Homo sapiens: one gene and its partners. The protein of the gene in region 5 purifies or fractionates together with the protein of the main gene of each other region. This does not show direct contact. Each region holds a gene or a part of one and is shown on either strand. Other genes may lie near its edges.

Evidence for each region.
Region 1: the proteins of PPP2R5E (region 5) and TPD52L2 fractionate together in Homo sapiens (co-fractionation; one large-scale study listed by BioGRID). This does not show direct contact.
Region 2: the proteins of PPP2R5E (region 5) and SGO2 purify together in Homo sapiens (co-immunoprecipitation; one study listed by IntAct). This does not show direct contact.
Region 3: the proteins of PPP2R5E (region 5) and CD226 purify together in Homo sapiens (co-immunoprecipitation; one large-scale study listed by IntAct). This does not show direct contact.
Region 4: the proteins of PPP2R5E (region 5) and IPO9 fractionate together in Homo sapiens (co-fractionation; one large-scale study listed by BioGRID). This does not show direct contact.
Region 6: the proteins of PPP2R5E (region 5) and API5 fractionate together in Homo sapiens (co-fractionation; one large-scale study listed by BioGRID). This does not show direct contact.
Region 7: the proteins of PPP2R5E (region 5) and KIF15 fractionate together in Homo sapiens (co-fractionation; one large-scale study listed by BioGRID). This does not show direct contact.

Annotation. Positions count from the first base shown.
Region 1 is NC_000020.11:63,867,902-63,872,188, reverse strand, and holds part of TPD52L2 (tumor protein D54), read right to left. Parts: intron 2,894-4,287; coding exon 2,748-2,893; intron 1-2,747.
Region 2 is NC_000002.12:200,577,973-200,581,954, forward strand, and holds part of SGO2 (shugoshin 2), read left to right. Parts: intron 1-2,562; coding exon of another isoform or gene 2,563-2,566; exon of another isoform or gene 2,567-2,696; intron 2,697-3,982. UniProt on the Homo sapiens protein: Cooperates with PPP2CA to protect centromeric cohesin from separase-mediated cleavage in oocytes specifically during meiosis I. Has a crucial role in protecting REC8 at centromeres from cleavage by separase.
Region 3 is NC_000018.10:69,856,970-69,861,256, forward strand, and holds part of CD226 (CD226 antigen isoform a precursor), read right to left. Parts: 3' UTR 1-4,287.
Region 4 is NC_000001.11:201,866,380-201,870,666, reverse strand, and holds part of IPO9 (importin-9), read right to left. Parts: intron 3,935-4,287; coding exon 3,708-3,934; intron 2,020-3,707; coding exon 1,871-2,019; intron 1,078-1,870; coding exon 949-1,077; intron 85-948; coding exon 1-84. UniProt on the Homo sapiens protein: Nuclear transport receptor that mediates nuclear import of proteins, such as histones, proteasome and actin. Serves as receptor for nuclear localization signals (NLS) in cargo substrates.
Region 5 is NC_000014.9:63,382,318-63,386,604, forward strand, and holds part of PPP2R5E (serine/threonine-protein phosphatase 2A 56 kDa regulatory subunit epsilon isoform), read right to left. Parts: intron 2,255-4,287; coding exon 2,127-2,254; intron 1-2,126. UniProt on the Homo sapiens protein: The B regulatory subunit might modulate substrate selectivity and catalytic activity, and might also direct the localization of the catalytic enzyme to a particular subcellular compartment.
Region 6 is NC_000011.10:43,314,567-43,318,853, reverse strand, and holds part of API5 (apoptosis inhibitor 5), read right to left. Parts: intron 434-4,287; exon of another isoform or gene 372-433; intron 215-371; coding exon 53-214; intron 1-52. UniProt on the Homo sapiens protein: Antiapoptotic factor that may have a role in protein assembly. Negatively regulates ACIN1. By binding to ACIN1, it suppresses ACIN1 cleavage from CASP3 and ACIN1-mediated DNA fragmentation. Also known to efficiently suppress E2F1-induced apoptosis.
Region 7 is NC_000003.12:44,796,004-44,800,290, reverse strand, and holds part of KIF15 (kinesin-like protein KIF15), read right to left. Parts: intron 2,741-4,287; coding exon 2,615-2,740; intron 2,458-2,614; coding exon 2,335-2,457; intron 1,097-2,334; exon of another isoform or gene 1,003-1,096; coding exon of another isoform or gene 1,000-1,002; intron 1-999. UniProt on the Homo sapiens protein: Plus-end directed kinesin-like motor enzyme involved in mitotic spindle assembly.

The DNA of each region.
Region 1 (4,287 bases), on a different chromosome or scaffold from region 5:
TTCCAAACCTTGGCAAGAGTCAGTTACACGAACCAAAAGGTAAATTATCTTTTGTGCTTAACGTAGTTAGAACTGAGCAACAGAAAGATTCCTGATCATGAAGACTTGAACTTTCTCAGGTCTTTAAAAAAAAAAAAAAAAAAAAAGAACATGACCTCTGAAAGGGGCATCATTCAAAGCTTTACCACTTTAGAATGAGTTCTCAGTATCTTCAGCTCATATATGACTAGCTTCTCTTTAAAAATTCTCTTTCTTGGCCGGGTACGATAGCTCATGCCTGTAATCCCAGCACTTTGGGAGGCCGAGGCGGGCAGATCACCTGAGGTCAGGAGTCCGAGACCAGCCTGACCAATATGATGAAAGGCCGTCTCTACCAAAAATACAAAAATTAGCCAGGCGTGGTGGCATGCACCTGTAACCCCAGGTACTCGGGAGGCTGAGACAGGAGAATCACTTGAACCTGGGAGGCAGAGGCTGCAGTGAGCCAAGATCGCACCATTCCACTCCAGCCTGGGCAACAAGAGCAAAAAGTCTCAAAAAAAAAAAAAAACTCTTTCTTGCGTGTAATCCCAGCACTATGGGAGGCTGAGGCAGGCAGATTACCTGAGGTCTGGAGTTCGAGACCAACCTGGCCAACGTGGTGAAACTCCGTCTCTACTAAAAATACAAAAATTAGCCAGGCATGGTGCTGTGCGCCTGTAATCCCAGCTACTCGGGAGGCTGAGGCAAGAGAATCACTTCAACTCAGGAGGTGGAGGCTGCAGTGAGCCCAGATCACGCCACTGCACTCCAGCCTGGGCGACAGAGTGAGACTCCGTCCTTAAAAAAAAAAAAATTCTCTTTCTTGGCTGGGTACAGCGGCTCGCATTTGTAATCCTAGCACTTCGGGAGGCTGAGCCAGGTGGAGCTCTTGAGACTCGGAGTTCGGGACCAGCCTGGCCAACATGGTGAAACTCTGTCTCTACTAAAAATACAAAAATTAGCCAGGTGTGGTGGCAGGCGTCTGTAATCCCACCTACTTGGGAGGCTGAGGCATGAAAATCACTTGAACCAGGGAGGCAGAGGCTCCAGTGAGCTGAGATCACGCCACTGCACTCTAGCCTGGGCGACAGAGCAAGACTCTGTCTCAAGAAAAACAACAAAAAAAAGCAATACAGAACTTCACCTTGTAGGGGCCGGGCACAGTGGCTCACACCTGTAATCCCAGCACTCTGGGAGGCCAAGGTGGGTGGATCACAAGATCAGGAGTTTGAGATCAGCCTGGCCAACATGGTGAAACTCTGTCTCTACTAAAAATACGAAAATTAGATGGGCAGGGAGGCACGCGCCTGTAATCCCAGATATTCGGGAGGCTGAGGCAGGAGAATCGCTTGAACCTGGGAGGCGGAGATTGCAGCGAGCCGAGATCACACCATTGCACTCCAGCCTGGGCGACAGGGCGAGACTCTGTCTCCAAAAAAAAAAAACAAACCCCATCTCGACTAAAAACACAAAAAAATTAGCCGGGCGTGGTGGTGGGCGCCTGTAGTCCCAGCTACTCAGGAGGCTGAGGCAGGAGAATGGCGTGAACCCGGGTGTTGGAGGTTGCAGTGAGCCGAGATTGCGCCACTGCACTCCAGCCTGGGCGGCAGAGACTCCGACTCAAAAAAAAAAAAAAAAAAAAAAAAACTTCACCTTATTGTAATTCAACTCTGAAAAAAACCTTGTGGATTTAGTTTCTAAACTCACATATTCTGAAGTTAAATGGAAAGCAAAGTGTCCTTGGACTTCCTGCTACTCTCCTTTAATCTTCTAGGCTAGAAATAGCTGTGTGATGTCCTCAGGATCTGAAACCTGGTCCTCAGACTCAGCGGCACAACCAACCTTACTCAGACCTAGGCCTGGACCCAGATTCTGGAATTAAACCACATCACAGGGTGAAAAGAAAACTCTTGGCAGTTGGTTTGACTAAAAATTATGGTTGGAGGCTTTTGTTCTTAATTCCTACATTACTCTTAAGGGACTCTCACTTAAAGAAGATCACATAAATACTTTTTAGAAAAGAAGTTTTTGTTTTGTTTTTGAGACAGGGTCTCGCCCTGTCACCCAGGCTGCTGTGCAGGATGCAATCACAGCTCACTGAAGCCTTGACCTCCTGGCCTCAAGCAATCCTCTCACCTCAGCCTCCTGAGTAGCTGGGACTACAGGCACATGCCACCACACCTGGCTAATTTTTGGGGGTAGAGACAAGGTCTCACTGTGTTGCCCAGGCTGCTCTCAAACTCCTGGGCTCAAGTGATCTTCCCACCTTACCACCCTGTCCTCCTAAGGCGCTGGAATTACAGGCATGAGCCACTGCATCCAGCCAAAATAAATATGTTTAAAAGAAAACTTAAGATCCAGGACAAGAAAGATTCATGGGGTCTTAAAAATGATTATCAAGTGTTAATTCCAACAGAGACACTCCCAGCAGATGGCTGCTCAGAGGCGGTTCATGTGTGAACACTCCTCAGGGAGCACTTAGGAAGGGCCAGGCACAGAGGTATGGGAAGGGAGTCATGCCCTGTCTCCACTGCCAGGTGGCTCTGAGTCCAGTGCATGGAGCTGGGCACATACAAAGAGAACCCCGTTATCAGTCGGAACACAGAGCAGGGTAGGTGACCACCCAGGGCAATTCCTCCCGAGCGTGGCCAGTACCCTGGCCTCTCACTAATCCAAGAGGGCCTTAACTCCAATTCACCCCAGGACAGACAGCCAAGCCACAGCACCTTGGTAAGCTCAGCCCTGAGCTCCTCCTCCTCAGCCTCTGTCAGACCCTCAACAGCAGGAGTCCGGGCAGCCACACCTGTGTCGACAGGAACATCCGTCATGGAGTCAGACAGCAGACCTTTGTTAGGAGAATTCAGGTTGATATCTGCCAGAGACAAAATGAGGCCACAAAGTGTCAAATAAGTTAGTTCCAAGTAAATACGGTAGAGGTCTCTAGCAGGACAAAAGCACAGGTGGGAGTGGGTGAGACCCTGGAGACTAACACCTCTTCTCTGAAAGGTCTGTGAGGACAGCATGGGCAGTAGACGAGGGCAGCCACACCTCAGACCACCTGAGCTGAAAAGCCAATGCCACTTGTGCTGCTTCAGGGCACGACAAATGCCGGCCCAAGGCAGGCAAACCCGAATTCTGGCTTCCCAGTGAGAATACTATCGTCAGAGGCAGGAAACCCTTGCTACAGAGAAAGCAGCTCAATCTAACAGACCTTCCACCTTTTTTTTTTGATGGAGTCTCACTCTGCCTCCCAAGCTGGAGTGCAATGGTGCGATCTCAGCTCACTGCAACCTCCGTCTCCCGGGTTCAAGTGATTCTCCTGTCTCAGCCTTCGAGTAGCTGGGATTACAGGCGCACGCCACCACGCTGGCTATTTTTGTATTTTCAGTAGAGACGGGGTTTCGTCATGTCGGCCAGGCTGGTCTCCAATTCCCGACCTCGGGTGATCCGCCCGCCTTGGCCTCCCAAAGTGTTGGGATTACAGGTGTGAGCCACCATACCCTGACAAATTTCCACTTTTTTTAAAAAAAGGAACCTAATATGGTTAATATACACAATAAGCATCACTTTCCTCTCAACACATCTGACAGAGCACATGCTAAAATTACGTACTAGGAGCACATGCTGCTCATTCAGCTCCTTCAGGGAGGCAGCAAAACAAAATTCCCTTTACTTACCTCCCGATTCTCATCCCACTGCCAGAAGGCCGCCAGCAGGCAGAGAGGTGCAGAGCGGTGTGCTGCCACCACACACCTCAACTACACCCAGATCACATTCAAATTCCTGCAGCCACTGTTTTTTCTTCATGTCAAATGCATCTTCCTGACTACCCTAAAAGTCTACAAGATTTCACATAAAGAAAAACAGTCTATTTCGATTCTCTCCAAATCCAAGCACATGACTATTGTAACACTTTCCCTGTTGACCAAAACATTCTGAAAAGAAACAGGCTTACTGCCAGGCGCAGTGGCTCATGCCTATAATCCCAGCACTTTTGGAGGCCGAGGCAGGTGGATCACATGAGGTCAGGAGTTCGAGACCAGCTTGACCAAAATGGTGAAACCCCGTCTCTACTAAAAATACAAAATTAGTTAGCGTGGTGGCACGCGCCTGTAGTTCCCAGCTACTTGGGAGGCTGAGGCAGGAGAATCACTTGAACCCGGGAGATTACAGGCGTTGAGCCACCACGCGCGGCCAAAAAAAAATTCTTTAAAAAAAAAAAGAAAAACTGGTCGGGCGGGGTGGCTCATGCCGGTAATCCCAGCA
Region 2 (3,982 bases), on a different chromosome or scaffold from region 5:
GGGAGATACTTTGAGTCTATATATTCCATTTCTCAAACTTTCACCCACTAATTTTAGCATCCATTGGTGGATCTTGCCTGCAACAGTACTACTGTGGGTACTACTAGTAGTGATTTTTGATTTCTCCCTTTCCTTCTACATTAATTGGAATTCATCTGTAAGGAAGAGTTGTCTTTTCTATAGATATAGATATAGATATAGATATAGATATATATCGTGGGTATCTCTTTTGTTCTATAGATGAAAGTCCAATGCCATCAATATTTATCTTGTTGCTCAAGTTATTCCAACTTTGACCACTAAGAGTTCCTTCAGGTTGGCTTCCGTGTCCTTTTGACATGACTTCATACTATTTGGAGCACTTTCTTACTTTCTGACACACAGGATGTTCCAGTATGTCATAGTGGCTTAATCCTAGTGGCTTAAGTAGCAATCTGGATGCAGCTTAATTAGGTGCTCTGCTTAGGGTCTGACAAAGCTGCACTAAAGGTGTCGTCCAGGCTGGTTCTCATCTGGAGGCTGTGCTGGGGAAGAATCTGCTTCCAAGTCACACAGGTTGTTGGCAGAATTCATTTCCTTGTGGTTCTGGACAGAGGGCTTCATCTTCTTCTTGTTGACTAGAGGCTGTCCTTAGCTTCTTGCCACACGGCCTCCTTTACAGCATGGCCACTTACTTCAAAGCCAGCTGTGGAGAATCTCTAGAGCAAGTCCTGTAGCAGGATAGAGTCTTATATAACAAAATGTCATCTCGGAAGTGAGACATCTCATCACCTTTGCCAGTGGTCTCCTTGTTTATTGTAGAGGATCTATAGTATGTTTTAATGTCTGGTAGGGCTAGTATCCTCTCATGGTTTTTCTTTTTCATTGTTTCCCTCACTGTTCTTGAATGTTTGTTGTTACAAATGAATCTTAGGATGGTATTGACTTGTCTGGCTCGGTTTCATAACCTTGGCACTGTTGACCTTTGGGGCTAGGTATTTCTCTTTTATGGGAGGCTGTCCTGTGTATTGTAGGATGTTTAGCTGTATCCCTGACCTCCATCCACTAGATGTCAGTAGCACCCTCACATTTATAACAACCAAAAATGTCTCCATATGTTGCAAAATTTCAACTGGGAGGCAAAAGCATCCTGAGTTGAAAACCACTGGTCTATAAGTATTTAGTTTTCTTTGTTGCTATTATATATGGACATGTAACTGATGCCCAATGTTGTTCGTATATATGAAAGCTGTTGAATTCTGTGTCAGTTTATATCTTGTTACTTTCTGAACTCTGTTATTCTCTTATCTCACTGATTGTCTTGAGTTCTCCAGGTATAGTATGATATCATCTGAAAATAGAGATAGTTTTACTTCATTACCCTGTTTGTATGCCTCTTACTGTTTTTATATTAGCATTGGCTAATAACTCAGGTACAATGTTAAAATAGTAGCAGGAATAGTAGGCATGCTTGCCTTGTTCCTGATTTTAGTAGAAATGCTTCTGTTGAAGTATTTTTGTCTCTCCATTAAACAAGATACTTGCTGTAGGATTAAGATATGTACATAATTTACTAAGAAAATGCCCCTTGATGCCTATTGAGTGTTTTTATCATGAATGATTGTTGAATTTTGTCAAAGGCTTGTTCAGCATTTATGAAGATAGTAATATACTTCATTTACTTACATGTATTAACATGGCATCTGTTGATGAGTTTTCCAGTACCGAACTAACCTTGCTTTCCTGGAATAAATCTCACTTGATCACGGAGTATGTTTTTCATAATGTGATGTTGAATTGAGTTTGCCAAAATATTTTGTTTAGAATTTTTATATCAACATTCATAACTGATGTGAGTCTATAGTTACCCACCTTTGAATTGTCTTTATCTGGCCTAGGTATCATATTAAGGGAATCAAGAAAGTCACCATCTTGGTTCCTTTAATGAAATAATTTATATTTCATTATAATTTATAGTGCATTATAATTTATGTTTATAATTATTTGTATGTTATATACTTATATAATTTTAGAACAGTGGGACTCTCTGGTTTTTGTAAGTTTGTTAGCATCCCCCTCTGAAACCATCTGGACCTAGTACTGTTTTGTGTGGGATAGTTCCTTAATAACGTTGACTGTTTTTTGTGTGTATGAAAATTAGTCTGTTTAAGCTTTTTTGCTGTAATGGGGTCAATTTTTGTTATTTGTATTTCCACAGGAAATTATCCATTTCATCTAAGATTTCAAATTTATTTGCATAAAAGTCTGCAAAGTATCTTTTATGAATTAGACATGTAAATTAATTTTAAATCTTTTTTCCCATAATTATTTTACCTATATCATTTATTATTTTTTGTGTTTGTTCTTTTTCTCTTTTTCTTGATCAAATTAGGTAGTAGTTTATTTATTAACTTTTCCAAAAAATCAGTACTTTGATTTACTAATTGGATCTATTTTTCTGTTCTCTACTTCACTGACTTCTGCTTCATATTTATTATTTCCTTCTTTGTGTTTTCTTTGATTTACTTTATTATTGTTGTTTTCCCATTAAAATTTATTGTTTTTATTCTTTCATTTATATAGATAACAGTGTTTTATGGACAGGCACAGTGGCTCACACCTGTAATCCCAATACTTTGGGTGGCTGAGGTGAGAGGATCACTTGAGCCCAAGAGTCGGAGACCAGCCTGGGCAACACAGGGAGACGCTCACTCTACAAAAAATTTAAAAATCAGCCAGGCACATTGGCATGTGCTTGTAGTCCCAGCTGCTACTAGAGAGGCTGAGGTGGGAGGATAGTTTGGGCCTGGTAGGTCAAGGCTGCAGTGAGCCATGATTGTGCCACTGCACAGAGAAAGATCCTGACTCAAAAAATTAAAAATAAAAATAAGTAAATAGAACACACACAAAAAAATTTTTTTTTAAAGTGTCTTTTGCAATCAATTTTTCTCTGATCAGTGCTTTCAATGTATCTTGATTCTGATACATAGTGTTTTCAATGTCGTTTTTAAGTTTCTCCTTTTCTTTAGGAGTTATTAGGAGGTTTTAAAAATTCCAGGTAGATGAACCTTTCTGGTTTTTTGTTTTTATTTGTAAATCTAGTTTTATTGCATTTTGGTCAGAAATTATTTATTGTAATATTTCTGCTTTATGGAAATTGCCAGTATTTTCTTTGTGACCTACTATAGGATCAGCATTTATAACTGTGCTGTGATTGCTTAGATGTATATTCTCCATAATCAAGGTCTAAAGTTTGATATATATCCATGAGATTTACTGTATTTATTATGTTGCTTAGATCTTCTGTTTCTTATTTTTTGTAAATAAGTGATCTGTTTTGTACTAAGGTTATACTAAGAGTTGTATATTAAAATCTACTGTGTCCTGTGTTTCCATGTATCTCCTGTAGTTTTTGCTTCAGAAGGGTGGTTGCTCTGCTTTTTGCTATGTAAATATCATGATTATTACTTATTCATTTTGGATTATGGCCTTTATTATATTAAAAATGTCCTCATTTGTCATGTTCAGTGCTCTGGACTAAAGACTTAAAGTCTTTAAGATATAAAGACTTTAAAAACATATTTATGAGACCTTCCTGATAACTCCTACCACTCCTATCTTCAATACCTATGATGATCATTCCATAATAGCAAGCAGCTTTAATTAGGATGTACTTTCATGGGAGCTACTAGAAGCTGTGATATACCTAGTGTATACCATTTCCAATCCAAAAAGAAGGAAGAAAAAAAAGTGGCAACTGGATGGTCATCACTCGGAATTTATACTGAATGTTGTGGCTTTTGCTTTTAAAAATTTTACCAACTAAGCTGTATAGCAAATCATCTGCATGCACTGTACATTTAAACTAAAATAGAACCTTATTTCCTTACAGCATTTTGCTGTGTTTTATTTAGAATAGGTACTTCTTTTGAAAGGATTAATTAAACTCTATCTAATTACCCAAGGCAGTGGTATCACACTGGCTCTGAAGAGGAGTACGAAG
Region 3 (4,287 bases), on a different chromosome or scaffold from region 5:
CACCCTGGCTAACACGGTGAAACCCCGTCTCTACTAAAAATACAAAAAAATTAGCTGGGCATGGTGGTGGGCGCCTGAAGTCCCAGCTACTCGGGAGGCTGAGGCAGGAGAATGGCGTGAACCTGGAAGACGCAGCTTGCGGTGAGCCGAGGTCGCACCACTGCACTCCAGCCTGGGCGACAGAGCGAGACTCCGTCTCAAAAAAAGATAGCTATTCATTAGACATTGAAAGAATTATAAAATAGACATACAAAATTACAGAAAGGTTAGAAGAGTAATCTCTATCTCTAGAAGCTACTGAGCCATTACATTTCTTTGTACATTTTTTATGTGAGCTAAAATCAAAATTTGCTTCTGAGGACCATTATACGATAAAAATAAAGTGTGGGATAAATCAGCTCAACTGAAGCCACATCCAAAGCTGTTACTCAGAAAACTTAGTATCACTGAGAGTATATTGGAGAGCTCAAAGTCTTACTCAGGCAGCTGATCAAAGAATAATGGTCTTAGTCACTGTAAGTACTTTTGGATACCTGGCATAAAGGATGTAATGAATACATGATTGAATAAGGATATATCTTAAGAATGCATTTTCATAAAAACATAAAATCAGTTGAGATTATGTAAATTTTGAAGAATGAAGAAAGTAAGTTATCATAGCTTCTTCTCAAGTTTTATTTTTATGTCTTACAAATATGGCTGGGCAATACAACACAAGGCTTCCTTTTCAGGAATTTGGAGAACTTATGCTTGGTATTTTAAACTCATGAGAACTTAGTCTAGAAAGGGCCTCCACTTATTTGACCACAGGTAGAAGATTGGCTCTGCTTTCTTCCTGTAATAATATTGGTTTCTATAGGTCAAATGATACACAGTATAATTTTGTGGCATTTTGATTACAAGTTTTCCATTTAAAAATGGACAAAAATCAACTTCTTACTTGAAATTTTGGAGGTAGTATGTTACCAAAAAAAATGGTAGTTCTTGTAAAGGTATACCTGTGTCTAGACATAAGTTGCAGGTTTAAAAATCAATAGATTTGAATAAAGTTAAAGTCTAGAAAAATATGCAATGTATACATGCGGATGATTAGTAAACCCTAATATCCAAATGCAATGTCAATAGTGTTACTAAAAATGAACTATCGGCCATTATTGCAAAACTGCCAACTGAGAATATTGATATAGATACTAACTGTATTTATTTGTTTTTTCAGCAATTTATTTTAAAACAATCTTGGATATATTTAGTTACATCTGGAATAAACTCAGGTATTACACAGGGCCTTGAAACATTTATAAAAGGGTATATTAAACCCTGCCTTTAAGAAAACTATCATCTGGTCGAGGAGGGACATTTGTCAGTTGAAGTTCTTCAACGAGCCTGGAGGGAATGTCGCAGTGTGTTCTGTTTGGAAAGTAAGTTGTACCCTGACTGCCACTATGGAAGCTGAAGGGGGAGATACAAGCTGCTGCCTTCCAGATATATTTAAGAGACACTGATTTTGGAATAAGTCAGTGAATAAAAATAGGGGCTCAGGACTCATCCGAACGTGGGGTACTGATGCTGCTCAGATTCACTGCCCTGTGTTCTAGGGAGGGTATCGAAGCCCAAATTGTTGCTTTCTGCAGGAAACGAGTGTTTCCTGCCTCGTTTCCCACTGGAGTTGCCACATGTTGTGTTTTGCAAGCCTACTCCATCGGGTGTCCTGGGAATTCTATGAGCCACCCCTATGTTCAAATACTTAACTTTTTTTTTTTTTTTTTTTTTTTTTTTTTGAGACGGAGTCTCGCTCTGTTGCCCAGGGTGGAGTGCAGTGGTGCGATCTTGGCTCACTGCAACCTCTGCCTCCCGGGTTCAAGCGATTCTTCTGCCTCAGCCTCCCAAGTAGCTGGGACTACAGGTGCGTGCCACCAGGCCTGGCTAATTTTTCTATTTTTACTAAGACAGGGTTTCACCATATTGGCCAAGTTGGTCTCAAACTCCTGACCTCGTATTTTTTTTTTTCTTCAACAGTCAGTATCTGTTTTCGTGCTTACAACCAATACCCCCAACTTTTACAGACACAAAAGCAAACATAATAGACTTATTATTCCTTGTTATGGGCACTCGTTAAACATTTACAACACGGAAACACATGTCCTTTTGTTCTGGAAAATGTTTTAGAGTGGATTCTAGGTTTCATGTATTCCTCCCCCTTTTTCTGGATGAAGGGAGACACCAGGATGGCAGTTGTGTGCCTCTCCTTCTAGCCCCAAGTCAAGCTTCTAATGGAGTCTTTCTAAGGAAGTTGACGTTGGTAGAATTCCTGCTGCATCACAGGGGAGTTTCAGGTCAATTTATGGTAAATACAGAAAAAGTCAGTCCCCAGAATGACAATTATTAGCTCTAGGTGGAAAAAAAGTTATGTAGGAGGGAAAGCAAAATCATTTTTACCATGTAGTTTAACTAAGAGTACTGGCAAGGTCATAAGAAATAAATGCCAAATATTGATATAATCATATTTTAATACAAATATTTCTGAAAGAGACATGAGAAGAGTATTTTATGTGGTGAGTTTGGGGAGAGAAAGACATCTAAATGAATAATGAATGTCTAAAATTGAAAAAAAAAGTATTAGTGTCATAAGCATGCTATTCAGAAAAGTGAACATAAATAAAATAATGAGTTAGAAGTAGTAAAATTTGTTGTCTCAAGGTAACAAAAATGAGGAAGGGCAAGGGACTACTATGTTTCGGGAAAAACAAAAACAAACAAACAAAAAACCTGTAAAGCCCTTTGACCCTTTGCACTACATGCACTTATAAAATACAAAGAACAAGGCCAGGAGTGGTCGCTCATGCCTGTAATCCCAGCAATTTAGGAGGCTGAGGCAGGTGGATCACCTGAGGTCCAGAGTTCAAGACAAGTCTGACCAACGTGGAGAAACCCCGTCTCCACTAAAAATACAAAATTAGCCAGGCATGTTGGCATATGCCTGTAATCCCAGCTATTCAGGAGGCTGAGGCAGGAGAATCACTTGAATCCGGGAGGCAGAGGTTGTGGTGAGCCGAGATTGTGCCATTGCACTCCAGCCCGGGCAACAAAAGTGAAACTCCGTCTCAAAAAAATAATAATAAAATAAAATACAAAGAACATTGCATTGAGATAAAAATTACAATGTATCATTGATTTGAATTTTTTCTGCATGTAATTCATCAGTTAATTTTATTCTGTAGAAATTTTTCCCTGCTATTTCTCCATGGCAAATGAAAGTAGTGATCGTGAAACATTGTGTTTTATTCATTCAAAACAACAGAATACAAGACAAAGGAAAATATTTCTATACCCTACAAGAACCAAAAATCCAAAAGTACACACTAACACTAGAAAAAGTGTTCTGAACAGGTTGACCATATAACTTATTCTAACAAGGATAATACGAAATAAACCAGAATTATCCCAGACATTTATTACTCATACTTCCAAATGGACCTTTTCTTACATCTTACAAGATAGTTAGTGCTCTGAATCTGGAAAAATATGTGTAAACCGACCTTGAGGATTTATAAAATTTCCTTAGAAAGCATTGCAGTTAATTCTAGAAGCTATTTTTCTACCTATTGAATCACTAGAAATAGAGAAGCTTTTAAAAAAATTAACTTGTTTTTAGTTTTCAGATACATGTTTTAAGAGCCCAGAGTCTTGGCTGGAAGAACTCTAATGAACAGATCAGTGAAAAAATATACTTATACAGAAGTCTGAAGGTGGAGATCAGTACTTTCTAGATGTTACATTTTAATAGTAGCTAAACTAATGATGACATGTTTATATTGTCTTATATTTTTTAAAGATATTTTCTTATCACTGTTGTGAAAAAGAAACTTTGTACTCACAATTTAGCGTCTCCACTTACACTTTATAAGCATCTTTATAATATCGTCAATCTTGCTGAAATTTCATATAAGCAGTACAAAATACAGTACATCATTATAAATCAAGGAGAAGCATTTTGGTCACAGTGATCTCTAATTACAATGTGGACTCTCTCAATTTAGAAAACTACTGTTATACAGCTGTAATTTTTACTTAATGCCATTCTATACAAACCAATATAACTTGGATGTTCACAATCCACGAATGCCTACTAAAAGTATTTTTACTTACTTTGTCTTTTAAATTGATAACCCATGTATTTTAAGTTTATATATATAGTATTTTAGTAATACACTGAATTACTTAAAACATAAATTGGAGTTTTTACTAAAAATTATATCTTCACCTACCTGCCTCCCATTTTAAGCATGA
Region 4 (4,287 bases), on a different chromosome or scaffold from region 5:
TCCATTGTGGCCCTGCTCATCATGCCACTGGGCTACTTGTTCCAGGGTCACTGACACATAGGCCCGCAAGCACTCTCCGCCATTCTGGGGAGACAGGGGTGGCAAGCAAGATTAGTAATCGAGGGACAGATGCCAGAAGGCCCTCAGTCTGTATAAACAAATGTTCCCAGAGGCCTATGCCTCATAAAAGCGGTGAGTCTATAATGTTTGTGGTGGGCTCATACCACTGGAGTTAAGACATTTACTGTTACAGACATAGACGTGCATTACATAATTCCCCCTTTACCTAATCAGCTATCTCACAAATGTGTATATATATTTTTTTAATCACAAGGGACAATGGCCAAGCAAAATGAATTTTAATCATAAAGGTCTACCTCTGGTACTAAAAAAATATGCTTACAATCTTGGAATAACTGGGGATACTGTAGGTCTTTATATAGGTCTTACACAAACCACTAGTTGCCTAGGGATTTCCAAGCTGATCAATATTCACTGGCAAGTTCCTATAACCTTTCTAATCAATCACAGTAGCAGACACCTGAAAAGGTAACCAATTCACCCAAGAAACAAAAAGAGAAAAAATATTCAGGCATGTCTCCCCTCTCTAGAGGCCCATCACTCTGCTGACTTTATTACTAGAAGAAATATGCAGAAAGACTTTCTTATGGCCCCAAGTCTAGATGTCTGTAACCTCTTTCACAGTAGCAATACCCAATACAGATGGGCAGGGTGCTTGGTATCCATATTTTTAAAAACTGTAACATGCTCCAAAGCACCAGAAATGCTTGGCTTTTGCAGACTGAACCCTTCCTGAATCTGCTAAGTAAATATGGAGTTGAGAATTCCGTATTTCAAAAGCATAAAACCATGTCAGATTTCTCAGCATAGTATAAGCCCATGGCTGGGGAGCTATCTTCCCTCTTCTACTCTCCATGTCTCAGATACCTGCATGGTGGCATTGTCATCTGTGTGAAGGGTACACTGTGCCACAGCAGGGAAAGCTTGGCAGATGAGAAGCTGGGAAAGGGGAGGCTTTGTATTTCGTACTACTGTTGTCAGGATATCAATGGCTGTCTGAAAGAGAGAAGAAAAAGAAAAGTCAGAATTGCCTCTGGGGTGGGGGTTGCCCAACAACCAAGATCCTTACTGGATGGGTATTACATAGCAACCCAGAGAAAGCTTATTAATGAAAGGCAAGTTTCCAAAATAAAAGGAATAATTAAATGGGTAGTACTCTCAGCCTTCTCATAATAGCTTACTAATTGATTAGCCATAGGGGTGGGCAGTAGTACATGGTAGTGGATTGGATAACCAGGTGACATACTTAGTGGCACTGTGTAAAGGTGGCACTCTGTTCAATTCACTGAGGGTACCTCTGGAACAAGAAGAGCCATTTTCTTTCTTTCTTTCTTTTTGAGGCAGTCTCGCTCTGTCACCCAGGCTGGAGTGCAGTGGCACGATCTCCACTCACTGCAACCTCTGCCTCCTGGGTTCAAGTGATTCTCCTGCCTCAGCCTCTTGAGTAGCTGGTACTGCAGATGCCTGCCACCATGCCCGGCTAATTTTTGTATTTTTAGTAGAGATAGGGTTTCACCACATTGGCCAGGCTGGTCTCGAACTCCTGACCTTGTGATCCACCCACCTCGGCCTCCCAAAGTGCTGCAATTATAGGCATGAGCCACCGCGCCAAGCCAAGCCATTTTCTTAAAGCTTCAGAGAATCACCCACTGTCCTTGCAGGCAAAAGAGCTCAGCAAAATCACCCCATGAATCTCTAACGCTATTAGGTTCTTGTCAGCTAGATGCATCTGTGGGTGGCACTTGTAGATCTCTCTCACACACACACACACACACACACGGCCACTTACCGCACAAAGCCCTGCAGGAATCTTGTCTGCTGGGGCCTGCATTATGCTGACCAGAGTGGGAATCAGCCTCATTTGCATTGGGCCCTGACAGGCTTCAATCTGGGACAGCTCCTTGAAGATGTCCTGAGCCAGTGAGGCGACGACGGGATCTGAAGTGGATAAGGCAACACGGAATCCCCCTGCCTGATGGTCTGCATCTGCTTCTCGCTTAATGATGCCTGTTGTTTGGCCCTAACCTAAGTTAACAACTTCTGCATTGATTACTTATCACATACCCGGGACCTAGTGGGGCCACATGAATAACCTGAAAGAACAGGAGAGATCCTAAATCTGCAAGAGGTACACTTTGTATGGCTTCATTAAAGTAGGGACTAGTCATTAACAGCTACTCATAAAACAAAATGTGGCTTTTTCTAGAGAAAAATCTTTAAAGTCTTTATTCTTGTGAAACCTACGTTATAAAACCAAATGCTTAAAAAAAAAAAAAAAGCCCAACTGATACTTTAAGAAGACATGAAAGCTGCAAAAATTGCCAAAACACTGGCTTTGATGCATGAGAGAAATCATACATATCTCCTATGGGGTAGCCACGGTAGACATGAAGAACTCTCAAAGCTACTTCTGGGGCAAAAGGCAAAACTCCTAAAAAGCAGAGCCTTATGAAGAAAGGGAACTTTAGCTCAATCTTCTTTATCTATAGAACAAAACATCCTCCTCTATTTAGTATGGAAAAATATAGGCAATGTGCATTAAAGTATACCTTAAAAGATCACTGCAGCATTGTTTGTAATAGAAAAAAATTGGGAATACCCTAGATGTCCATTAACAGAATGGGTAAATTATGATATACCCATTTTATGGAACATTAGTAATGGCTGAAAAGAATGAGATATATCCAAGAACACAATGTGGAAAGCTCCTCAGTACACATTTTTCAGTGAAAAAGCTATCAAATAACATGTTCAGTATATCACATTATATAAATAATCCTTATCCTGTACATCTTTCTGAGCTTCAATATTGGAGCTCTCTCTTTAAAAAAAGAATCCTTAATATTTTACTAGTAATAAGGTATTAATAAATACATTCACTACAGGAAAAAAAAAACTTAAAATGCAGAAAAGTAATAATGAAAACACCTGTAATTCCACTACCTAAACACTCAACATTTTGATGTATTTTTTTTTAAAACATACCTATCTATACATACATGCTTTTCTAAAAGAAAAATCAAAACTTGGGATCATATTCTATGGATTTTTTGGGAAAAGTATCTTTTCATTTATTATAATGTAAGCTCTTTCCCATGGTTTCAGATATTCCTTTTAAGCTTGATTTTTAATGGCTGCACAGTATTTCATTTTATGGATATAATTAACTAATGTCTTTTTATAATTTCCAAATTTTTACTACTGTAAAAAATATCTAGTGAATACCTTTGTTTATAAACTTTTCCATATATCTTTCTTTAGTATCTCCTTTTCTAAATTATAGTCCTAGCCCTTTTCTTTTAGGAGGCTTTTCATTTGCCCAATTTCCTATTCTATCATCAAAGTTCTGAATTATGTCTCTTGCTTATTAGCCCTTTATTTATTATCTTTATCCCTAAGTCCTTACTAGAGAGTAAGTGTTACAGAAATAGGTACTCTATTTTTTAATGCTGCTACATTTACAGCACAATTCTATTTTTTGCTAATTGAAAGCCAGATTCTTTGCTTACGATGTTAAAACCATAGCTTCATAGCTAAGACCAGACCTAGGGAATCTTTCATTTAAATTCACCAGCCACCACCTTTTCTTTGGTGCCCCTCATAATACATCCTCCCTGGCAGCATACCATTACTGTACTTTAGGAAAATGGCGATGGTGAAGGGGCAGATTTTGCTTTCCATGCTTGCTGTGAATTCGGGGTCTACTGTACAAACGATGCACAGGGTCTCCATCACCAGGTTGAGGACCTCTGAGCTGAACTGGGCTGCTAGGTGAATTAAGCCATCAAGGATGCTGGGGAGGAAGGGCTGGAGCACGTGGGTACTCTCTGAGACTTTCAGTTGGTCACAATAACTAGAGAGAGATAGATAAGCAAGAATTATTAAAAAAAATTCAATTCCTGGTTTTCCCAATCAATCTCACATATTATAGCATTTGTATGTGTAGCTTTATAAAGCTAATTCTAAAGTTAGGTTTAAGTTTCTACTTCTTTCTGGATGTATTATATAAACATCAACACCACCATTTCTATGTTCTGTAATTTATTTCTTTGACTTTTGCTATTTTCTTTAAAAACTTCTGCTTTTTTTCTTGAGGTTTTTTTTTTTTGCATCCTGAAACAAGCTTAATTTATATAAACATTTTATGTTTCACTTTCAAAATCAGCCTATTAGCTGTAGGATTTAAAGTTCCCTCTATAGTTTTAC
Region 5 (4,287 bases):
TTCCACATCAAGAGATTTCAAGGCAAGATAATTTTCTGAGGGGTGGTAGAACTAGAAAAAAAATCTAACTTTGCCCTTCTAATTTCTTTTTTTTTTTTTTTGCAACGGAGTTTCGCTCTTGTTGCCCAGGCTGGAGTGCAATGGCACCATCTTGGCTCACCGCAACCTCCGCCTCTTGGGTTCAAGCAATTCTCCTGCCTCAGTCTCCTGGGTAGCTGGGATTACAGAAGCGAGCCACCACACCTGGCTAATTTTGTATTTTTAGTAGAGACGAGGTTTCTCCATGTTGGTCAGGCTGGTCTCGAACTCCCAACCTCAGGTGATCTGCCTGCCTCGGCCTCCCAAAGTGCTGGGATTATAGGCGTGAGCCACCACACCTGGCCTGCCCTTCTAATTATTGGCACCCAGAATAGAGCTGCCTGTGGGCATTTGATAATTTCATTTAATAAAAAGGCAAGTATAATAGTAAAGCAATTTCACCCTAAAATAAGGATCTGTGATAGCACTAACCTTAGACATCTGAATTTGCATAGAATTCTATTTTCTAAATAACACATAATTCATCAAAATCAGAAGCTACTTCCCTAGAAACAAATGTTATATATATATGTGTATATATATAAATTATTCTTATCCAAAGAAATGAAATCAAGCCCTCATGTAGGTTGGGTGGTTCAATATGAATTATCTGTCTAGCTCTGATCTGCACCAGTCCTGCTGACCCAAAATATATGCTGATAACTGGCAAGCTGGGATGGTTGCTATTAGCTATGGGACACTATACAGCTAAACAGCCAAAATGGTAGCCCATACTTAACAAGAATTAGCTCTTGGGCAATGTGAGGACAAGGTTATGATGGGCTTGATAGCTTCAGACTAGAGTCTAAATAGCTTTTCCTTTTGCAAAAATATCCGTTGCTTCCGTTTTGCAACAAACATGCTCCTAATACCACTGAAAAATGCATTGGTAAAAATTAGCCATATATTAAATAAACCATGAGTCTGATGTTTCCAAAACATTTACAAGAAAGTACACTTGCTGTGTAGCTTCTGCCTTGTGCCATTAAAAGGAAAATTTAAGTTCTTTTCTGTTAAGGTTCCAGAATGACCTTCCTCCCAAGGGCAGTGATGGGAAAGCACCAAATGTAGTATACTGAGTAGTTACAGACACTTGCTAGAACCGTTCTCTAGGTCCTCAAGAGACTATCTGTATAAAGGGACTTAACTGTTTATCAGCTCCTTATTTTTACAAGTTCTATTAATATAATTAGGCAAATTTGAAAAATTAGAAATGTGATATTTTATAATTACATGCAAAATTTTTAAAGATAAACATATTATGAATATACTGAATTGTATCTCCCAATTTTTAAATACCACATTAAATTTTCCTTCTATTCCACAGAGAAAAATGTAAAGGCATTCAAATTCAGAATGCTTTAACTTTCATAGGGCTGGATGTTAAACTTCCCTTGATGATTTTAAACTCCTTCCTTTCCAAGAGATACATATAGCGACTGAGTTGGCTGTTAAATAGATCACACTAAAATGAAAACCTAGTCAGACCACTTCCCCACTTAACAACCCTTCAGTACTTCCTCATCATCTACTTGGTGAAGGCTCACACGAGTCCCACAGTCTTTTCTAGCCACATCCTCTAGCACCCTCCCCAAAAGACCTTGTGCCTCAGCCCTCCCAAACTCACAGGTCTCAGAAACTGACAGCTGCTTTTTACATCTTTGTGCCTTTTAACATGATGGATGGACCCACTGTCTGAAAGGGCTCTCCCCATGCCATCCACCTGCCAAATTCCTTTCAGATTCAGTCTAAGCATGGCCATGCTGTCAGTATCTACACACCTCTCCTCTCAGCTGCAGTGCCTCCCCAAAAGATCTGCTACCTTCATAGACAGATCAAGAAGCCTGTCTAGTAAACAGATACTTTAACCGGTATTTTGTTAAAGTATCTGTTTATTTTCTCCAGTCAGTGAATCCCCAGAAGGTAAGGATTTTATCTTTTCACATACGTCTTCAGCAACAAGGACAGCATCTGGCACATAATAAGGCTGAAGGGAAAGAAAGAGAGGAAGGGAGGAAGAGAACGGAGGAAAGAAACTGAAAACCTACGGATTCCAATGTTCTTTTGAAATCCTATAAAGGCTGGAAAACATGATGGGAAGGATGACGTTAGAGTTTTCTTCTATCAAACTCATGATGTATTCATTATTCCAATAATAGAGTGCTCTTTCTGCCACCTTTGGGAAAAGAAAAATAAAATGTTAAGAGAGAGAAAAAGACAAAGATAAAACAAAATTATAAATCTTTCCAAACAAAAGTATTTCAAAAGGCTATTTGTAAATCATTCAATTAGAGGTAAAATTAAATATTAATCACATTTTAATATATATATATTTTTTGAGATGGGAGTCTCGCTAGTGGCGCGATCTCGGCTCTCTGCAACCTCCGCCTCTCGGGTTCAAGCGATTCTCCTGCCTCAGCCTCCCGAGTAACTGGGATTACAGGCACATGCCACTATGCCTAGCTAATGTTTGTATTTTTAGTAGAGGCGGGGTTTCACCACATTGGCCAGGATGGTCTCGATCTCCTGACCTCGTGATCCGCCCACCTCAGCCTCCCAAAAGTGTTGGGATTACAGGCGTGAACCACCGTGCCTGGCCCACATTTTAAATGTTTGTGGATTTTTAATCTCTTGGAAAATTCCAAAGTGGGCCAGGCACGGTGGCTCACACCTGTAATCCCAGCACTTTGGGAGGCCAAGGCAGGCAGATCACTTGAGCCCAAGAGTCTGAGACCAGCCTGGGCAACATGGGGAGACCTCGCCTCTACAAAAACACAAAAATTAGCCGGGATTGGTGGCATGTGCCTATAGTCCCACCTACTTGGGAGGCTGAGGTGGGAGGACTGCTTGAGCCTGGGAGGCGGAGGTTGCAGTGAGTGGAGATCATGCCACTGAACTCCAGCTTGGGTGACAGAGCAAGACCGTGTCTTCTCCTCCCACCAAAAAAAAAGTCCAGAGTGGTTCAAGTGGTTCATCGACTCAGGGAAGGAAAAGAAGTTTTCCTGTTAATTTATATTCTTCTCTAATTCTGCCCATGTCATCTGATTCCACACTTTCCTGACATCACTTTAGCACATCTCACTGGTCCCCTTTCTTATGTTTTTCATCACACACACTTAGATCGAACCCAGGGCCCAGCATATGGTTAGCATTCAGTCACAGCTACTGAGGAACACCCACAGTTGCTCATCCCTGTAGAGCGGCCAATATTTACTAAGTACCTCCTATGGGCAGGCACTGTGCCTACACAGCAAGTAGAATGTATCATCCTTACCACCATCCCAGAAGGAGATACCATTGTGCTCATTTTACAGGTGAGGACACAGAGACTCAGGGAGACTGAGTAATGTAGGCAAGGTTACACTGACAATATGGTAAAGACTGGGGCCTCATTTCTAGGGCTTCTTCCAGAGTTTGTTTCTGGTCCCTTCCTGTGCAAGCCAGGAGATGTCTGCTCAGTTTCTGGTCTCAGGGACACTGGCTGCACCTACCCTCTCTGCTCTCTTAGATCCCTTTTCTCTGCCCACCATGCTATCAACTGGCTCTAATTTGGTCTGCTGGGCCTGATTGGCTCATCTTGGATTTCATGAATTCAAAAGAACATCTCAAAAACAAAACCTAAAATCTCTAAAAAGGGTAGTTACAGGGGAAAAGGGAAAAAGGGGTGGCTTCCTTCATTTATACAGATTAAGAAGCCCTGTTTTAGAAGAGAACAAAATGGTATAAGATGTATCTACCGAAAGACACTGAGAAAACAGAATTTTTCCATTTACATTATTCAGCTTGGTTCAAAAAACAAAACAAAACCCTGAGACTCATTAGGCACCAGACCCTGAGAGTACAAAGAAAACAATCATTACTGCATGTTCACTATATGCCAGGCACTGTGCTAAGTGTCCCACATATATAATATCTCATTTCCTCACAACCAACAGAGTTGGTACCATTACTTTTCTATTTTGTGGATGAAGAATCTGAGACTCAGAGAAGCCATTGGCTCAAGGTCACATGGCTAGTAAGTGGCAGATTCCAAAGTCTCTATTCTTAACCTCTTTACTCTGTTATCCCTAAAGAGTTCGCACACTGGTGGGAGAAGGGGCATCTACAAGCCTATCCAATGTAAACTGTGACAGATGCTATATCAGATATATGAATAAAGTGTCAGGGGAAGGAGGGGAAAAGAGCAGAATCAACAATCCAGATGACTTG
Region 6 (4,287 bases), on a different chromosome or scaffold from region 5:
CACATACAGAAACATCTGAAAGATTGCTATGAAGTGTCATTCATAAACTTACAGATACATCTTCATCCTCACAGAGGTCTAACTGTGCATTGATAGCAGAATCAGCCAATTCTGGAAAATGCTTAAAGAATTTCGGAATAAATTGAGCTGCTAATCGCTTTTCCTTAGTACCACCTTTCACACCATCCAATATCACTTGATAGGCATCTTTATGCTGAAATAAAAAATAAAGCAGGAAAGACACATGATTTTGAAGGATGGGAAGCAAAGTAAAAGACCATAACAAACATGTTAGAGTGTGCTTTAAATTTTTACACAGGCTAAGAAATAAAGCTGATTTTGGGAGGTTTACTGCTCAAACTGACACTTACCTTCCCAATTCCGTTCTCCCTCCATCTTTGTTTCATTTTTGAGTTGGGGGAGATGGATGAGTCTAATTTTAAGTGGAAAAAGCAAATGTGTTTGTTAATATGCCAATACTTCTTCATTCTAGTGATTATTAACTCTGGCCATGTGACTGTATCATGCTTAAAAAATTTGTAATGGGCCAGGCGTGGTGGCTCACGCCTGTAATCCCAGCACCTTGGGAGGCCAAGGTGGGTGGATCACCTGAGGTCAGGAGTTCAAGACTAGCTTGGCCAACATGGTTAAACCCCGTCTCTACTAAAACACAAAAATTAGCCAGGCGTGGTGGTGTGCGCCTGTAATCCCGGCTACTCGGGAGGCTGAGGCAGGAGAATTGCTTGAGTCCGGGAAGCGGAGGTTGCAGTGAGCTGAGATCGTACTACTGCACTCCAGCCTGGATGACAGAGTGAGACTCTGTCTCCAAAAAACAAAACAAAACAAAACAAACAAACAAACAAAACAATTGTAATGATGGCCAGGTGTGGTGGCTCATGCCTGTAATCTCAACACTTTGGGAGGCCGAGGTGGGCAATCACTTGAGCTCAGGAGTTCCAGACCAGCCTGCCCAACATGGTGAAACTCCCTCTCTCTAAAAATACAAAAATTAACTGGGTGTGGTGGCAGACATTTGTAATCCCAGCTCCTCAGGAGGCTGAGGCAGGAGAATCGCTTGAACCCAGGAGGCAGAGGTTGCACTGAGCTGAGATCGCACCACTGCATTCCAGATTGGGTGACAGAATGAGACTCTATCTTAAACAAGTAAATAAATAAATCATCATGAATACCATAGAATTCACAAAGAATTGCACTGTATTTACTTAAACAAAAATTTACCTGTTTCTAATTAGCACCTTGAAGAAGGTGAAGGGAATACATTCCAGAAATTTAGCAATTCCAGCAATGTTAGGAAGTGCAGTTTAATTTTACCTCATAGCAGTATATGAAAGCCATGACAATTCACTCCATATAGCCAGACAATTTTGGATTAAGACGGACTCTAATGTCACATGTTTAAACCTTTTATTGGAACAATACACTCAAAGCTCATGTTTCCTTAAAAAAAAAAATCACAGGTGCTCTCCCTCAAATACTCATAATGGGAGGAATCAATAAGTTCCCAATCCTCCTTAAGTACTTGCCTCCAAACCAGTCCTTTTATGAAATGACACTGATAAAGATGGTAAATAACAGTAACAAATACAGAAAGACTACACATATATATTGTTTGGACATATGAATAAAACTTAGTAACTGGAAAAACAACTTAAAAATTATAATCTTGACCAAACATATACACAGTATAGTATTTATTATGTATAAGGAGTGTTCTAAGTGCTTTAGACACATGAGCTTACTTCATGCCATCAAGCGGGGAATGACCAATAAATATCCAATGAACTACAGAATTACCAAATTTATTTTACAGTGATTCTTTTTTGTTGATAATGCTATGTTAAGTGAAAAAATAAAGCAGGATGCAAAGTTACAGAACAACTCCCAAATAACAGAAATTTCTGTGAATAAGGTTAACTTCTTCATGAAATGCAGATATATGAGTCTTCAGGAGTCATCACTGAAAAGTGTATTATAAACACATCAAGACCCTGTCTCTCCAAAAAATATAAAATTAACCAGGCATGGTGGTGTGTGCTTGCAGTCCCAGCTACTGGAGAGGCTGAGGGAGGAGAATCACTTGAGCCCAGGCGATAAAGGCTGTGGTAAGCCATGGTCGCGCCCAGGAGTTAGAGGCTGTGGTAAGCTGTGGTCGCGCCACTGCACTCCAGCCTGACAGAGCAAGACCCTGTCTCAAAGAAAGAAAGGTATATGACATACTTTTCACCGCAAACATTAAAAAAAGAAATCATGCTGACTTCTCTACCACTTTACATTCCTGTGGTTTGCCTCAGACTTCTAGGCAGGCTTCATAAAATCAAAGTTTGTTCTGACACCCTTACTTTTTGCAGGGTATCACAAATCTAATTTTCTTTAACTCAAACTTACTCATAAAGCCATTTGAAGAAACTCCTTACACTGTCCAAAATTAAATGAAAAAAAAAAAACCCTGCTTAAAACAAAACTTCCTTTTGCCAAGAAAAAAATATTAAATCTGGAATCAAATAAAAAGGAATCATTAACAATATTTATTGAAGGTCTACCAGGGACTGAGTGATTCCTTGTCTATATCACAATAGGTGTTACTACTATTCTTATCTTTTAGATGAGGAAACTAGGGCTCAGAGAAGTGAAATAAATATTTCCACATATTTTTGAGGGATTACGAACTTGGTTGGTCAGTGGTTTTAGCTTAATCATACAAAAAACCCTACTACAAGAGTGGTTATTTCATGAAATAAAAGTCCAAGAAGCCTACACGCCAACCCTGCAAAGCTAGTATACTCAATGATTGAGAGAACAGGAGGAATCAGGGTTTCAGCATTATACAGATCTAATCAGCCCCACTGCCATGGTCCTTTAACAGGTGTCGGATACATTTTTTAACTTTTAAGATTTTGACTACATAATATAAAATTAAGTATCTATATTTAAAGTAAGTAAATTCATAATAATTTGAAACAGAATTTTAAATAATGGTGGGCCACAGCTTGCTCTATTATGGCTAGTCAGGAGCCCTGGGCAGAGTACAGTGGAAAAGGAGATCAGAAAGGTAAAGGAGCACACAAGAGAAGAGTGAGACCTGAAGGAGTAGCAGAGGCAGAGTGGGGGAAAGGCAGGATGAACGCATAGGCAGAACATGGCAGTTACATGAGAAGATGATAGGACTGGAAGATTTGAGGTATTAAATAATTCTGCACTTAGAATTTGTCATCTGCAGTTTGCTTATTAGAATATACATGCTCATATATGTATGTATGTGTGTGTGTATGATAAAGTTCCCTTTATCCATTAGAGATAATCTGTGTAAATGGTTTTTCTTTTCTTTTGTAAATGGTTTCTCTGTTCCTTCTTCCAATACATTTCTTCAACTATGAAAAAGAAATGCTTACTGAAGGGCAAGGTACAGTGCAAGAAGAGAAGCAATAAATAAATAAATAAATAAATACATAAAAGGATTTAACCCTTGAGACGTTATAATTTAAGTACAGAAATAAATAAAATAAAATACAAGTCTGAAGCATTATTAGTAAGTACATCGTACCAAGGGGTTCAAAAAGAGGATTTGATCTGCTTTGGGGAAATTAGCCGATAAAACCTCAGACGGCTTGTAAGTTTACCCTTATATATTTAGAAGGCACTACTCTGAAAGGAGTATTGACAATAATGGGGAGGGAATAGTCTGTAGTGGCAGCAATCAGAACACCTGTAGTGCTCACCTCTCTGGTAAAGGTTGATAATCAAAGTAAAAGTTAGAAGGAAGTCAAGACTGACAAACTTGAATGCAGTCTCAGAAGTATCCAGACAGGTATTTGCCAGGAAACTTAGTACTGATCATAAATCTCTCATAAGTTGACATGAAAATCAGGCTTTGCTACATCAAGAACATGAACACGGTTTTCTCTCCTTAAAAACAAGTGAAATGGTGTCCTCTCTACTAAGGTGGCTTTTGCCTTTGTTAGTTAAAATTACAAGCAATATCCTAAAACCTACTGTCTTTTTTAGTAAGTGATTTTAGGCATTTTATCTAAAAGGGGAGAAGTATAACCCAACAGAGCAGAATTAGTAGGCATTATCTTCGGTTTTCCTACAATTCACAATATTTGAGCTGCCTGAGCTAACCACTACATCTCATTATGCAGAGATACTGTTTAAATAGTTGCTTGACAGTTGTCAATACAGAACGCATTGATCACCCATAACCTACAGAGAATTGTGTTAAATTTCAGTGTCCAGCCGGGTGTGTGGTACATGGTAGGTGAAATGTAC
Region 7 (4,287 bases), on a different chromosome or scaffold from region 5:
CATTAAAATAATGCTTTTTGAGTAGTATAGTCCTGTGTTTACATTTGTTTGGTATGATTTGTAGTGATGAACATCAAACAAAACTTCAAGACCACATCATAGTCAAAAGGACACAGGAATCACAGTGTGCTCAAGTGGGGAGGAAGCTTCCTTTTCTTGTGCCTTCAGACCTGGAGCCAGAGAGAGACAGCCCCAGCCAGGCTCTCTGCCCCCCAGCTGACTAGCCCTGAGCTTTTAGGCTGGGTCACCCTTAGGATCCGGGTGTGTTCACCTAATACTTCTTTCCCTGAGAACGACAGCCTTCCCCCACCCTCCCAATGGAGAAGAGCCAATACCTCAGTGAGTATCATTTCCCTTCTTTCCTAGCTCCCTACGGGGAAGGAGCCTAGCCTCTAAGTGCATGATGACTTGCAGGGTGGGCTTGAGCTTGGCAGAAGCAACCTTCTCCAGAGGAATCCGACCTTTATTTTTTAACAGCCCTCTTGGAAGGAGGGGTTGGTTTGACACTTCCTTTTTTTTTTTTTTTTTAATTTTTTACCACACTAAATGATTATCTTCATTTTCTTAAAGAAATGTCTTATTTAGGACAACTTCTAAAAGGCTAAAGGACTCACAAACAAAATGTGCCACTGTGGGGCAGGATGTCAAGAGTGGGGCAGGTCACACATGTGCGCCACTGCACTCCAGCCTGTTGACAGAGCGAGACTCTATCTCAAAAAAAAAAAAAAAGTTGATTAATTAAAAAAATAAAGCTTTAAAAAGGTCCACAAAGCCTAAAGGGTGATAACGAGTGCCAACAGCTGAGTACCAACCAGGTCAGAGGACTCAGTTGTGAAATACTCAGTACTCCAGCAAGGAAAAAACACCCTGTGACAGCCCCAAGGTCTTCTGTATTCTCGCTGTAAGCCCAATTTGCTCACGGAAAAATTTAAATAGCACATCCTTAAACAAGTCCCAGATACTCTGGCACTTTCCACTGATAGGCTGCAAAGGGCTTACCATTGAGAGTGACTAGTAGAAGGCTCTTGGTTTTGTTCTTTTGTGTGTTAAGCAGCCATTTCCAGTTGCTTCTGATTCTTATGGCCAGCCTCATTACAAGGTACTACTGCACTTCTGACATCACTGTCCCATCAGTGACTTCATAATTCTAATTATTGCTGCAGTTCTATATCTCCAAAGACTTCTAGTAAATCTTAAGAGACTTAGGGTCAGGAAGCTCTAATGATTTTTCCTCCTCATCTTACTAGTACTCCATAGTCCAAGGAAATAAAATAAATGACTAGATCTATAGTCTTCTGATTTACCCAGGGAAAGGGGCAACATGGACCTCCTGATTTACAGCCAGTTGGTCTGAAAGCACAGATAGGACAAGCTGGGGCTTGCAATTGGCATCAGAAGTTGGGCGCAGTCTTGTAGGACTGAGCCCTGAACCTGTGAGATCTCACCCTATCTCCAGACATAAAGTGTCAGGATGGAACTGAATCAGAAGACACTCAGCTGATGTCTGCTGCAGAACTGATTGATTGGCTGTTGGCAGGAAGAAAGACTCACATACTTAATTTGCTTTCCCTTAAGAAAAAATTTGTCAGCTGGGTACAGTGGTTCACACCTGTAATCCCAGCACTTTGAAAGGATGAGGCAGGAGGACTGCTTGAACCTAGGAGTTTGAGACGAGCCTGGGCAACAAAGTGAGATCCTACCTGTACAAAAAATAAAAAAATTAAGGCCAAGGCAGACGGATCACGAGGTCAGGAGATCGAGATCATCCTGGCTAACACGGTGAAATCCCGTCTCTACTAAAAAATACAAAAAATTAGCCGGGCGTGGTGGTGGGCGCCTGTAGTCCCAGCTGAGCAGAGATCGCACCACTGCACTCTAGCCTGGGTGACAGAGCAAGACTCTGTCTCAAAAAAATAAATAAATAAAAAATAAATAAAATAAAAATTAAAAAAATAAAAAAATTAGCCTGGCATGGTGCTGCATGCCTGTAGTTCCAGCTACACAGGAGGCTGAGGCAGGAGGATCGCTTGAGCCCAGGAAGTTGAGGCTAGAGTGAGCTGTGTTTGCACCACTGCACTCCAGCCTGGGTGACACAGCAAGACTGTGTCTCAAAAAAAAAGAAAAAACTAGTCAAGCAATAACAACCATAAGATCTAACCTAGGTCTCTAATTACATGTGTGATATAGAAGGGTAGGAAAGATAAAATAGAAATTTTGCATACAATGAGAAATAAATAAAAGTTAATGTTAATATTAGGGCAATCACAAAAATGGCATACTGTAAGCTTTAGTATTTTTCTCATTTATTTAATGAAGTATACGCCAGTATTTTACCTTGTTTTTAATCAGCTTGGCTCTTTGAGCAAAGTTAAGTGTTGATAGGGTTTCCCCAAAACACCTGGATCCAGGATGAACATTTGCAATTATGGCTGTTTTGGCATTACCTCCAAGGGAATCCTGTTTAATGATAGGAATGAACATATTTTCGGTGAGAAATCACAAGACCTTTTTAAGCAAAGAAAATGTATACTCTTGCCACCAAGGCTGAGAGACTGTCCCACTATCAACTTTAGCATAACCAAAAGGAGCCCAGGAACCCAAGGATCTACTTTACCCGTAGTAAGAAGGTAAGTTTGGAGTCTCTGTAGCAAACATGTCTCTGTTTTCCATTACCCACGTCGACAAGTGCTGTAATCACTTGGCCCAGGCAGCTCAATGATCGATTTATGTTACCTGCTTCCTAAAGTGTTGACGGAAAAGAACAAAAATTTAGGTACGTTGGTTACTCTTTGGTATTTTGAATGAAAATATATCTAGCAGAGGAAAATTCTGGATGAAAAGGCAAGTCAGGGACAATGTTAATAAAGAACAACTATTCAACAAATAAAAAAGAAGTGCTGAACTATCCCTAACCTTTTCCTATTTGATGTACACTGTAATTTTAGTATTAGAAGACAAACACAGGCTGGCACTGTGGCTCATGCTAGTCATCCCAGCACTTTGGGAGGCCGAGGTGGGCAGGTTGCTTGAGCTCAGGAGTTGGATACCAGCCTGGGCAACATGGCAAAACCCCATCTCTACAAAGAAATACAAAAAACTGCTGGGCATGGTGGCACATGCCTGTAGTCCCAGCTACTTGGGAGGCTGAGGTGGGAGGATCACTTGAGCTTGGGAGGTGGAGGTTGCAGTGAGCTGAGATTGTGCCATTGCACTACAACCTGGGTGACAGAGTGAGACCCTCTCTCAAAAACAACAACAAAAAAAGACAAACACAAAAATCATGCAAAGAAAAAAAATATTAATGTCACTTCATGATTGTAATAGTTTGAAACCGAGCTATAAAGACCAGAAAAAAATAGGGAAAAAAAAGCTAGAGTAGTGCATTAATAGGTACTTTTTTCAATCCTTTTATGCTAAAATATTTAAGGGTATAATGCCTAATAACTCACCCATACAGCCCCCAAAGCCACTGATGAACTTATTTGAGGAGAATATTCAGTTTAATTCTGTAAAGGATAATAAAAACTACTTTAAAACAGAAGCTTGGTGGGGGGAAAAAATGAGCTAAATACGTTACATTAGATTTTTACTGTAGGTAGCATATTTTGAAAACTGGGTCTGCAGTGGAAGGAGTATACAAAAAAGAGAAAAAGTCAAAATTATAATGCAAGATGTACTGAATTCAGAGTCACTGCTGTTATCATTCAGTAAATCAGAAAGGTGGTTAGTGGCATGGTTGAGAGTACTGTAGCAGCTCGGTTTGAATCTCAGCTCTACCTTTATTAGCTGTGTGACTTCGGTTTCTTTAACTGTAAAATAGAAAGAATAGCACCTACTTCCCAGAGTTGTTGGGAAGGTTAAATGAATTAATATATGTAAAGCATTTTAGAACAGACTTGGTATATGTCCTATTATAAGCATATGCTTTTTTTGACACAGAGTCTCACTCTGTCACCCAGGTTGGAGCACAGTGGCACAATCACAGCTCACTGCAATCTCGACCTCCTGGGTTCGAGGGATCCTCCCACCTCAGCCTCCCAGGTGCTAGGATTACAGGCATAAGCCACCATGCTCAACCCATATGCTATATTTATTAAGCCTCATATCTCAATAGAAATATGAGCTTTAGGCTGGGCGTGGTGGCTAACGCCTGTAATCCCAACACTTTGGGAGGCCAAGGAGGGTGGATCACCTGAGGTCAGGAGTTCAAGACCAGCCTGGCCAAAATGGTGAAACCCCATCTCTATTAAAAATACAAAATATTAGCTGGGTGTGGTGGTGGGCGCC